Linked DNA regions of Homo sapiens: regions 2, 3 and 4 are each reported to be linked to region 1. Evidence: microRNA targets listed by miRTarBase, many of them from high-throughput screens and not tested one by one. Region 1 holds a microRNA gene; each other region holds the end of a gene's coding sequence. Distances are from middle to middle.

Evidence for each region. Region 1 holds the annotated microRNA hsa-miR-216a-5p (UAAUCUCAGCUGGCAACUGUGA, at 970-991, opposite strand). A microRNA usually pairs through its seed, bases 2 to 8, with sites in the 3' UTR of a target mRNA and lowers its output. Matches are read on the target gene's strand: a 7mer-m8 pairs with bases 2 to 8, a 7mer-A1 pairs with bases 2 to 7 and ends in A, and an 8mer does both.
Region 2: miRTarBase lists PDP2 as a target of hsa-miR-216a-5p. The part of its 3' UTR that is shown has no 7-base or 8-base seed match.
Region 3: miRTarBase lists CPS1 as a target of hsa-miR-216a-5p. Seed matches in the 3' UTR shown: 7mer-m8 at 734-740.
Region 4: the mRNA of MCM8 is a reported target of hsa-miR-216a-5p. The part of its 3' UTR that is shown has no 7-base or 8-base seed match.

Annotation. Positions count from the first base shown.
Region 1 is chr2:55,988,051-55,991,219 of GRCh38, forward strand. MIR216A (microRNA 216a) reads right to left here and starts at 1,009; the gene lies at 900-1,009. The region is part of intron 2 of MIR217HG (MIR217 host gene); the gene reads right to left. All of the region lies in intron 3 of LOC105374690 (a long non-coding RNA gene), which reads left to right.
Region 2 is chr16:66,885,648-66,888,816 of GRCh38, forward strand. It overlaps PDP2 (pyruvate dehydrogenase phosphatase catalytic subunit 2), which reads left to right. Exons shown (of 2, transcript NM_020786.4): 2 at 1-3,169. The coding sequence ends at 227. Among named protein-coding and RNA genes, the nearest start is that of PDP2, 6.7 kb to the left of the region's middle.
Region 3 is chr2:210,677,459-210,680,627 of GRCh38, forward strand. CPS1 (carbamoyl-phosphate synthase 1) reads left to right here. Exons shown (of 38, transcript NM_001875.5): 38 at 429-1,649. The coding sequence ends at 527. Among named protein-coding and RNA genes, the nearest start is that of CPS1-IT1, 61 kb to the left of the region's middle.
Region 4 is chr20:5,994,197-5,997,365 of GRCh38, reverse strand. It overlaps MCM8 (minichromosome maintenance 8 homologous recombination repair factor), which reads right to left. Exons shown (of 19, transcript NM_032485.6): 19 at 1-3,067. The coding sequence ends at 2,975. The region is part of intron 3 of MCM8-AS1 (MCM8 antisense RNA 1); the gene reads left to right. Among named protein-coding and RNA genes, the nearest start is that of MCM8-AS1, 10 kb to the left of the region's middle.

The sequences.
Region 1 (3,169 bases):
ACGATGGTCTCGATCCCCTGACCTCATGATCCGCCTGCCTCAGCCTCCCAAAGTGCTGGGATTACAGGCGTAAGCCACTGCGCCCGGCCCAGAAATGTAATTTAATCAAACTGAGATATACAGACTTCTCTTTCTGAGGATACCTGAGGGGATATGTGCCAGTCAAGACCTTGGAAATAGCATTTTAATAATTTTTGTTGTTAAAGTTATCCCACATTTAATTATAAATTTGGTTCATCTGATTTGTTTTGTGTTACTGGGTGAATGAGGAAGATAACTGGCCTTGATTTTTCACCCTGAAGAATTACATTTGTTCTTATTCTTTTTATGGAAAAGGATTATCTGTTTCCAGGGATCACCGAGAATTAGAGTTGGGTACAGCTCAAAAGTTTCATGGCAACCTCAGCCTAAGCCATAGTTGATTCTAAATTTCAATATTATTTAGGGCAGATGAATGTGAAACACTTACAGAAGGAATGAGGAAGGGCGATTAAATGTGATAATCTGGGGAGTTGAAGTTTGAGGAGGGCCTGGCAGGAGATCGTCCTCTTTTAGACTGTTTGGAATTTGATGGAGTAGCACCCACAAAGAGAGTGGGAGGAGCTTTCAGAGGGAAAATATTTTGGGTTCAGCTTCTAACACCCAAACTCCCTTGGCTGCAATTTTTTAAAAAACCAAGTAGCACTGAAGGAGCGCAGTAAGTAGCAAGCGAATCCAATAAAGGCAAATTAATTCCCAAGGCTGGTTTCCTTTCCAGCACAACAGCACTTTAGAAAAAGACTTTACTAAGATTAAAAGAGGTTGAGCATGAAACAGTAACCATCGAAACTTTTCCCCCCGTCTTGGTCATGAAATAGAAATTTGGTGTTTAATTTTGGTTGCCATGCAAGTCTTTTGATTCGTGAGGGCTAGGAAATTGCTCTGTTTAGCATAATCCCAGAGACCACTGTGAGGGATTGTATGAACATCTCACAGTTGCCAGCTGAGATTAAGCCAACTCACAGCCATCCGTGTTAGACCTGCAAGAGAAAGTGTATGAGCAGAGGCACGTGGCTGCCTCAGGTGGAAGCACATCTTCATACATCGAGTGCACCAGCAGAAGCCCTGATGTACCCCTCTGCATTTTTCTTGAGGCGACATTATCAAGCTACTCCTCTTGCTGAATTCACAGATTTCTGGCATATGCTATATTGCATGTAATGTCATAAAAGTATAATCTTTGCATTTAGAAAGGATTTACTCTAATCCATATATAGTAAGAAACAGCCAAGTAGGAGTACAGGTGAATGTAAAACCAATCACTAAAAATGATTTTTTAAACAAGCTTTATAGAGAACTTGGAAACATCAAAGCCAAACACTCTAAAATTTGTCCTCAGACAAGAAAACCAGCAATTACGTTGAAAAAGTAATGACCGTATACTCACCAAATGGCCAGATGTGTCAATAGCGGTGGCTATTACCTTTCATAGATGGTGGTATGTCCTCCCCTCTTGCCCACATCACTGTCATGGCTAAGTGAGACTGAGCCATGATCTAAGCCCCTCAGTCCACTGGGTGGGGCTAATCAATGGTAAGAATAATGATTAAGAACGGAAGGAAGAGGAAACGCCCTCAGAGTTTCCCCACCATCTGCCGTGGATGGCATCTCAACTTGAGTGAGTGTAAGAAGCACATAGGAAACTTGTTACAAATGTAGATCCCCAGGACCTACCTCTATATTTTGATTCAGTAGGTCTGGTTTTGGTGGCTGCGATTTGCACTTCGGTGGAGATTTTCCACTGCCTTTCTCCAGCTTCACTTCATACTAGACCATTTCTTCCTCTACATTGTAGACTCCAGCTCTAACAAGTTCTGAGAATCCAATGAGCTGTGTTTGCCCATACTTGGAATTATTTCTTCTTTCTCTCTCCCTCCTCTCTCTCTCTTTCACACACACACACACACACACACACACACACACCCCCTTGTGTGACAGTCACACATTGAAAACTATCACACACTGCCTTCTCTCCCCAGTCTCCCTTTTTTGGCACCTGTAATACACAATGGTGTTTTCTCACTCACATGCTTTCTCCTTCATTGACTGCAAACTTCCAAGTGTTGGCACTGTGCTTATTCATCTCTATATCCTCAACTATACTATTCTCAGTTTAGCATCTGATGTTTAATAAGTGCTCAAAAAAATTTTGTCAAACTAAATCAAATGTTTGTTGAAGCAAAGAATTATGGATTTCAGCTCATAACTTGTCCTTTAATAATTGAGACTTGACACAATTAAGAGAGTGGTAATTTACAGAGTTAGAAAAGTGGCTTTTCGTTTTAAAAGTCAGGTAAATATAAAGTTACAAAACAATTGAGAAAGAACAATTGAATATAATCTTGTGCCTCATATGGACTCCTAAGTACAAAGCTACTTTTGTAAAATAAGAATGTCTCATCATTAGGATTTAACTTTTTAAATATTGTTCTAAGTTTATTTTCTGGAGTCAAATTGCTCAGGATTAAAAATAAGCAGATTTTATCTTAATCAAAAAACAAGGGCTTCTCAGAGCAACATGAATGACGTTCAGTTTTTTCTTTTCTCTTAATCTTATATTTGATTTTCCTTTCTCTCTAGAAAGTTTAATAGTGAAAAGTTACCATAGAGAAGTGACAGGAGTATGTAGTTCTTCTTCCCTCTGCTAGAAAACATTAAGAAAAGATCATAAATGGGAACATCATATGCTGATGTGGAAGATGAGACAGCTTTTTATTAATCTTAAGTTGTCATGTCCACAACTGCACAGGGAGGTGGGCTCTCAATGGAAGCAAAGACATATACGTTTCTGCCTTGCCTACCTTAGTGGGTTGCTGTGATGGGCATTTAAAAAAGAAAAAGGAAGAAACTGATACAAAGTTGTTTTGGCAACAAAGCTATATTAATGTGGATAGATAGTCCACAGGCCAGATAAACTGAAATACAGTAGCAAAGTATCAAGGAGTAAGCTGTTTCTAACACTATCTATACATTCTGTTCAAGTATTCTGAGGATATTATCTAAGATGTCTCTATATGCATATTTTGGGTGCACCGCAATGTATGCATTTGTGATCTTAGTTCTGTTAGAGACTCTCTATAGATTTGTATTTGAGAGTAATAAATTTCAGTTTGGTCATTGGGTCTGTTCA
Region 2 (3,169 bases), not on the chromosome of region 1:
TGCTGCAGAGGAAAGCCAGCGGGCTCCACGAGGCTGACCAAAATGCAGCCACGCGGCTGATCAGACATGCCATCGGGAACAATGAGTATGGGGAGATGGAGGCAGAGCGGCTGGCGGCGATGCTGACATTGCCAGAGGACTTGGCGAGGATGTACAGGGATGATATCACTGTCACTGTGGTGTATTTTAACTCAGAATCAATCGGTGCATATTACAAGGGGGGTTAAGAATCTCCCATCCTATTGTCAAGGTTAACATAAATGCTCTTCTAAAATGTTTCACTTACTCCTAAACTAGCTATCCAAACCTTACTATTAAAAGCGCAGGCAGATTTAATTTGCTAAATAGACTAACAGGAGGAAAAAAACAAACAGCCTAGCTTTAAAAAACAGTGAAATAGCAGTGATTTCATGTCCCTGTATGTTCTGATTAAGTCTTATATGCAGAGAGGACAGAGCATAAAGTCTATAGAATTGGCTTGGGCTTGTGTAGCCCCAGTCATTTGATAAAGATGTTGTTAAACTGTGTCAGCCTGAGCCTTCAAAGGGTAAATTTAATCATGATTCTGAGAATAAAGAACTTCAGGAGCTTCTTAGGTCTTGCCACAAAAATCTGCAAATTTGATAATTCTCCTGAATTCACAATCATGGACTTGTAGACTATGAAGAGATATTTTATTTGTTTGTCTTTTATTTAAATTACTAAGGTCTAGGTTTACAAAGCATACTACAGGACCCTTTTCTATGCAATATCCTAACTTTTTTTTTTGTGATTATGCTTGTGAGAAATTTTGTAATACTACATTCTAGTTCTGTTTTCGTTTATTTTAAAACTGAATCCTTAAACTTGCAAACACGCCTACTGTAAGCATGCTTGGAATGACTTGTTTTGGTTTTCAGCTGATAGGATCTATGCCTCTGGACCAGCTGAACTTACTGGTGCAGCTTTTTGTGCCCTCTACTGAGTCCCATTCCAGAAACTTTGAGCCATGCTAGGAGGTAACTAGTCTATGCCTTAACTCCTGACCTTTCCTGCATTAGTAAAATTTCCTCCTGGGCTGAGCCTTTGGGGGTTGATTCACAGCATTTAAGCTTTCTGATTATACCTCTCAAACATTCTTCTGTCAATTCCACACAATCCTTCTACCTCTGCTATGCTGAACCCCTCATTCACCCTGCACCTGCCAACTGCAAAATATTGTCTGAAAGAATCTTTCACATGTTCCTGCTTCCTATGGCTGCAGGAAAGGAGAAAATGTGATTGCATGTGGTAGTTGTGGTGATAGACGTTTAGACAGGACAGGTTAATTTAGCGGATTGTGGACTTAAGATTCAACCTCTATCTGGAGAGGTGAAAACACAAAGGCTTAAGGACAACAGTTTCTAACCAAGTTTCTCTGAATCCTTTCCTGAGAGGTGGTGGGCAGGAGGGAGGAGTGAGACTTATCAGATGGGACGCTTGCCCCAAGACTGTGGGATAAACCACCATTGCTAGTCCTCAGGAATTAGACCATATTTAGTATAGGAGTTGGGGCAAAAATAAAAGTGTAATTTGTAATGGTTTCTGTGGGCTGTAGACTCTTTGTATTTACTTGGAAATTCAGTTATGTGGATCCATTTTGGAGATGAATTTCATCTCATGAGTTGCTGTGGCATTTAAACAACAGGAAATGTGTCCCTAAATGGAAACAAATATAATCCCACAAAACCAACAATTTTATTTGCCTCTACTACGTCAGGCAGAATTCTTCAATTAAGTTGAACTACATTTGTTGATCCCTTTTCTCATCTTACCCCTTTATGCCACCTACTGAAAAGAAAAACAAATAGCTAGGTTTGGTTTCCTGTTTTTTGTCTATGTCCCAGCTGACATTCAGTCAAATGTTGGGATACTTCTAATTTGGTGGTGTTTCTTTGTACATTTTTCAGTGCAACTGTTTAGTCATGTGTTTTCATCTAAGAAATTATCTTTTGAATATTTAAGCCTTGATCCTTTTATTCTGAAACCATTAATATTCCTTCTTGGCTGGGTGCAGTAGTTTACGCCTGTAATCCCAGCACTGTGGGAGGCCGAGGCGGATGGATCACCTGAGGTCGGGAATTCGAGACCAGCCTGACCAACATGGAGAAACTCCATCTCTACTAAAAATACAAAATTAGCCAGGTGTGGTGGTGCATGCCTGTAATCCCAGCTACTCGGGAGGCTGAGGCAGGAAAATCACTTGAACCCGGGAGGCGGAGGTTGCGGTGAGCCAAGATCGCACCATTGCACTCCAGCCTGGGCAACAAGAGTGAAACTCTGTCTCAAAAAAAAAAAAAAAAAATCCATCTTATCTCTTAGTCCGTCCTTCCTTCCTTCCTTCCTTCCTTCCTTCCTTCCTTCCTTCCTTCCTTCCTTCCTTCCTTCCTTCCTCTCTCTCTCTTTCTTTCTTTCTTTCCTTCTTGACAGGGTCTCCCTGTAGCCAGGCTGGAGTGCAATGGCATGATCTTGGCTCACTGCAACCTCTGCAGCCCAGGCTCAAACGATCCTCCTGCCTCAGCCTCCCGAGTAGCTGGGACTATGCACCACCATGCCTGGCTAATTTTTTTAATTTTTTGTAGAGACAGGGTTTTGCCATGTTGCCCAGGCTGGTCTCAAACTCCTAGACTCAAGCAATCTGCCCACCTCGGCCTCCCAAGGTGCTGGGATGATAGGCATGAGCCACCGCACCCAGCCTATCTCCTAGATCTTGAATCAAAAATAAAATGTAAATCACTTCCATTCTGCTAGCATGAGGGTTTGTTGCTAAAATTGAGGATTCTATCTGACGTTTACTTTTTGTTGTTTTTTGAGACAAGGTCTTGCTTTGTCGCCCATGCTGGAGTGCAGTGGCATCATTATAACTCACTGTCAAACTCCTGGACTCCAATGTTCCCTCCCCTTTTAGCCTCCCAAGTAGCTGGGTCTACAGGCATGAACCATCAGGCCCAGATAATTAAAAAAACTTTTTTTGGTGAAAACATGATCTTGCTATGTTGCTCAGGCTGGTTGTCTGGCATTTTCTTTGTCCTTTATTCTTTATACTAGCTAAACCCTGGAGTATCCTTGAAGCCTTTACTGGCATACAGAGTACCTGAATCTTACTTTGGAGCCTAGCATGGGTCATAAATATATCTGATTCATTAACCTG
Region 3 (3,169 bases), 150 Mb from region 1:
CCATATAAAAGCAACAGGTTAATGATGGTCCAGATGTAGCACAAGTGCTTGTTCAATTCACAGAAAATGATTGCATGAGGCATGTTCAGTTTCACTTGGACATGACCCATCGAATTTATCACAGGGAGAAACAGAGTGGAGACTCATTAACTTTCTGCCTATCATATTTATTTTTTATGCAGAATCAGTTTTAATCCCTATGGGAGGAGAAATAAGCGTATTCACAGTGACATCTGAGATATAAAAGAAAGTCCCCATGGTGAGGTCTGAGACATGGGAGAAAGTCTCCATTACATAAAAAACTTTTATGCCTTTTATCCCATACCCCTTTGAAAACTGGGGACAGACACTTGTGACTTTTGTCTTCATTCATTAAAAATTCACTTTTATCTCATGGAGGGTGCTGATTCCTACCATTATATTTTCAGGTGACCAAACTTTTTGCTGAAGCTGTGCAGAAATCTCGCAAGGTGGACTCCAAGAGTCTTTTCCACTACAGGCAGTACAGTGCTGGAAAAGCAGCATAGAGATGCAGACACCCCAGCCCCATTATTAAATCAACCTGAGCCACATGTTATCTAAAGGAACTGATTCACAACTTTCTCAGAGATGAATATTGATAACTAAACTTCATTTCAGTTTACTTTGTTATGCCTTAATATTCTGTGTCTTTTGCAATTAAATTGTCAGTCACTTCTTCAAAACCTTACAGTCCTTCCTAAGTTACTCTTCATGAGATTTCATCCATTTACTAATACTGTATTTTTGGTGGACTAGGCTTGCCTATGTGCTTATGTGTAGCTTTTTACTTTTTATGGTGCTGATTAATGGTGATCAAGGTAGGAAAAGTTGCTGTTCTATTTTCTGAACTCTTTCTATACTTTAAGATACTCTATTTTTAAAACACTATCTGCAAACTCAGGACACTTTAACAGGGCAGAATACTCTAAAAACTTGATAAAATTAAATATAGATTTAATTTATGAACCTTCCATCATGATGTTTGTGTATTGCTTCTTTTTGGATCCTCATTCTCACCCATTTGGCTAATCCAGGAATATTGTTATCCCTTCCCATTATATTGAAGTTGAGAAATGTGACAGAGGCATTTAGAGTATGGACTTTTCTTTTCTTTTTCTTTTTCTTTTTTTCTTTTTGAGATGGAGTCACACTCTCCAGGCTGGAGTGCAGTGGCACAATCTCGGCTCACTGCAATTTCCGTCTCCCAAGTTCAAGCGATTCTCCTGCTTTAGACTATGGATTTCTTTAAGGAATACTGGTTTGCAGTTTTGTTTTCTGGACTATATCAGCAGATGGTAGACAGTGTTTATGTAGATGTGTTGTTGTTTTTATCATTGGATTTTAACTTGGCCCGAGTGAAATAATCAGATTTTTGTCATTCACACTCTCCCCCAGTTTTGGAATAACTTGGAAGTAAGGTTCATTCCCTTAAGACGATGGATTCTGTTGAACTATGGGGTCCCACACTGCACTATTAATTCCACCCACTGTAAGGGCAAGGACACCATTCCTTCTACATATAAGAAAAAAGTCTCTCCCCAAGGGCAGCCTTTGTTACTTTTAAATATTTTCTGTTATTACAAGTGCTCTAATTGTGAACTTTTAAATAAAATACTATTAAGAGGTAATGCAGTTGAATCTGGTTTTATTTTATGTTGCTGTACAAAAATCAGTTTACTTCTATGATAAAATAGGGTTTTGGGCCAGGATTGCATTGCTTATTTATTTTTTCCATGCAAACCCATATAGGGATGAGAAAATTAATGTTAAAAATAAGTTTTAGCTGTCACATTTTTCATTTTTTCTTGTCCCTCCCTTGCTTTTAAGTCTCATCATAACATTATGTGGTTATATGGCTATAAACCATCTTTGATCTGGATCCTTTCTAATGTATAACTACAACCACAAACTGATTAAAGATTGCCACAAATATATAGTAAACTTTCAAACAAATGTCTTGCATAACTCAGAAAAGTAACTTAACCCAATCAGAGGCTGACCAGCATTGTCTGATGGAAATAGTGCCAATGAGCACACTGATGCCATATCCCCAATTTACCACCGAAACTATGGCTTTGTGAAGGTCCTAAGATAATTATGCTATAACAGCTTTTATTTCTTCCTTGTTACCTCACAGTCAATTGATTACCACTTTGTATAGCTCTAGACGAATGCTTAAAGTAATTCATCTTCTCTCCCCCTCACTTCCTTGTTCTTCCTGTGGTCAAGACTTTCATTACTTCTTCCCTGTAATCTTTTTTTTTTTTTTTTTTTTTTTTTGAGACGGAGTTTTGCTCTTGTCACCCAGGCTGGAGTGCAGTGGCGCGATCTCAGCTCACTGCAACCTCCATCTCCTGGGTTCCAGCGATTCTCCTGCCTCAGCCTCCTGAGTAGCTGAGATTACAGGTGCCCGCCAACAAGCCTGGCTAATATTTTGTATTTTTAGTAGAGACGGGGTTTCGCCATGTTGGGCAGGCTGGTCCCCTATAATCATATAATTATGTAATCCCTGATCACTTTGATTCATTCACCTGAAAATATTTAATGAGTTTCTTCCATGTTTCATGTAGAATATATCACAATCTCTCCTACTATTATTCTAGCATGTTTCTGTTACATATCACCAGCACCACAACCACCATCACCATAATAATTAACATTATGGAGTCCATACTATTTTTCAGGCATTTGTAAGTACTTTACATGAGTTAACCTAGTTAATCCACAAAATATCCCTGTGAGTAGGTGCTGTTATCTCCATACTATAAATAAGAAAACTTAGGCATACCAAAGTTAAGTAACATGCTCAAGGTCACACGAAATGGAGTCTCACTTTTCTGTATCATATTCTGGTGAAGGTAGGCATGTAAAAAGAAATCATTTCTCACAGTAAAGAAAATAATTTGCCTGCAGAGATCAGGGAAGGGCATTTTAAGGAGATGGATTCATGTGTTGCCTTGAATAAGATCTTGCAGTTGCCAAGGAAGACTAGAAGGTAAGGACATTTAGGAAAATGACAATGACGTTGTTATGACTGGAGCTCAGGGTATGTGTGGAGGGAAAGGGCTAGTAGCAGAAGTTGAGACTGGACTCTTAATGGTGGATGTTTAAACTAGGTAGAAGTTTTAAAACTTTTTATTTGGAAATA
Region 4 (3,169 bases), not on the chromosome of region 1:
TCTACTAAAAATACAAAATTAGCCATGGTGGCACATGCCTATAATCCCAGCTACTTGGGAGGCTGAGGCAGGAGAAACGCTTGAACCCAGGAGGCGGAGGTTGCGGTGAACCAAGATCGCGCCACTGTACTCCAGCCTGAGCAAAAAGAGCAAAACTCTGTCTCAAAAAAAAAAAAAAAAGAAAAAAGAAAAAAAAAGAAACTTTCATGATGTAATGTTTTCTTGCTTTGCATGTTTCTGTTCTGACATTTGTACTTAGGATTTGTTTTAATCAGCAATGGTGACACAGAAACAATTGCCTATGGAAGATTACTTTCATCTCCCAAGAGGGCGTGCCATGCCACACCAGGCCACATGAGGAAACACCAAAGTCAGTCAGGCAGTAAAGAAGCAAGTGAAAAGCCTAGGCCAGAGCTTTGTTGCTACAGTGGTTGAAAGGTGTGGGGACACCCACTATTGGGCAGGAAGTGAAATACTATATGTTGGGGTTTGTGGTTGGAGGGACTGTAATGTGATGTTTGCACACCCATAAAAGCTGGATTGTAAGGGAAAGCTAAACAACTTTTGTTGTTAGTTTGGCCCTGTGATTAATGGATGCTAAATACATAATCTAAGGAAACATGGAACTTCTTCTTCTGAAAATGTAGGTTTATGTCTTTTTAAAAATAAATTTATATAATAGCCTTAACCTTTGAGACTTATTTTCCTCTTTGAACAATAAATTAGTATATTTTCTCTTCTGTCTACCACTTTATTTTGGTTGATATTATTTATGTGTTGACTTTTGTGAAATGTTTTAAATTCTATTAATAGATTTTTTTTCAGCTTTAAATATCTCTTATTTAGTTTGGAGAAAGAGTCTCACTCTGTTGCCCAGGCTGGAGTGCAGTGGTACGATCTTGGCTCACTGCAACCTCTGCCTCCCGGGTTCAAGTGATTCTCCTGCCTCAGCCTCCTTAGTGGCTGGGACTACAGGCACACACCACCATGCCTGAGTTATTTGCTTTAAATATCTTTTAACTCCTAGCTTTTAAAGACTTCACTATATTTATACTACTATCTACTTTCTCCATTTTTTTTTTTTTTCTTTAAGAGACAAGGTCTTGCTCTCTTGCCCAGGCTGGAGTGCAGTGGTATAATCATAGCTCACTGTAACCTCAAACTCTCGGGCTCAAGTGATTTCCTACTTCAGCCTCCACAGTAGGTAGGACAATAGGCATGCACCACCGTGCCCAGCTAATCTATTTTTTGTAGAGATAGGGTCTCAATGTGTTGCATAGGCTGGTCTCAAAACTGGCTTCAAGTGATCCTCCTGCCTCGAACTCCCAAAGCTCTGGGATTATAGATGTGAGCCACTGCACCTGGCCCCTTTTGATTCCTGATTTTTCCTTCCTCACTTAAAAATTTACATTGTGGTCTATGGCAATAGTCTCCACATCTTAGTTCTGGTCCTATAGTTAAACATCTGATATACACTGCCAGTTCTTTTTATTTACATTTTCCATTCATCTTCGTTTGCGGGAAGCCGTATTTTAGTAGATTCTCCAACAATGGTTCACATTTCCTGAGTTCTTGTATGTTACAAAGTGTTTGTTGGATTTATACATGATTGATAGTTTGGCTGGCAACCCTGTAACATTTGAATCCTCTCACAACATATGAGAAATTCTGGTCTTATTGATCCCACCACCTGAAAGTAGAACCAGGAAAACTCCCTAGCAGCCTATGAAAGGGGCATATAACATACCCTTTTTCAATCAGATGTCTTTGTATGCAACTTCTTTTTTGAATTCAGCAATTTAGGGAGGCATCTCATGCAGAATCCTTTTGTTGCTGTTCCGGTGCGGGTGGGGGCATTCTTCTACCTATTCCTGCTGCAGAAGTGGCAAAGGTGGGGCAGGGAGGCAGCAGCACTTTCTTCCAGTGCCCTGTGTGGCAGTGGAGTGTCAGCAGCTTCTTCCTTAGTCCAATTCTAAGGCATGGTTTTACAAATTGCTGCTGGAAGCTTACCCTCCTGGTTCACCTGCCTTCTAATAATTCCGTGAGCCAAACAAAATTCTTTCAAAAAACTTCTCCTGCTTAATCAGTCTGTTTCTATTGTTTCAAGCAAGACTACAAACTACAGCCTGTGGAATAAATGAGACCTATTATTAAATAGCTAAAAACAAAACTCAAGTATTTTGTATTCTTGACATGGGAAAATTTTATGAAATTCAAATTTTAGTGTCCATAAATAAAGTTTTATTGGAACACAGAATATGTAATATATTCATTGGTTTATGTATTTGTCTGTATGCCTACATCTGATATGCAAAACTATGAAATATTCATACATATAAAAGGCAGGTCAAAAATACAACTATAAAAAATTTATAAGTAATTTACTTTTAGCCCTTTGGAGAATTTATTTAACAATTAACACATGGCTACCACTACAATTTTTTTTATTTTTTTGAGTCAAGAGTTACTTTATTGCCCAGGCTGGAGTGCAGTGATTGGTGTGATTGTGGCTCACTGTAACCTCAAACTCCTGGGCTCAAAGAATCCTCCTGCCTCAGCCTCACAAGTAGCTGAGACTATAGGCATGTGCCACCATACCCAGCTAAGTTTAAATTTTTTTTTTTTTTTTTTAAGAAATGGGGTCTTGCTATGTTGCCCAAGGTTGGTCTCGAACCCTGGCCTCAAGGAATCCTCTCACCTCAGCCTCCTGAGTCACTGTGATTACAGTGTGAGCTACTGCATCTGGAGACTTTATCACTTCTTAAATTAGTTTATTATATTTAATGCTTTTTTCCTATTATAATACTTTTGGGACATCATTTTTCAGAGAACAGTATTTGACTGTGTGTGTGTGTGTGTGTGTGTGTGTGTGTGTGTGTGTGTGTGTCTGTCTGTCTGTGCGTGCACGCATATCTTCACTGAGATGGCTTTAATCTGCAATAAACCCAGGAGGCCCTAACTTGGTGAAGTCCTTTTACATAGTTTGAAGCTGGTAAACTTTTGGGCCTTTTTTCAAGAGGTAACCCTGGTCATTTAGTGATCCAATAAAATTTTCAAAATCAGCAACCTGGAAGAAAACATCAAAAGGTTTAGCCCATTAAGTAACATGTCAAAATATTACTTTTAAAATAAATCTCTCAAATAATAATATGTACCTGTAAAGTTTCTT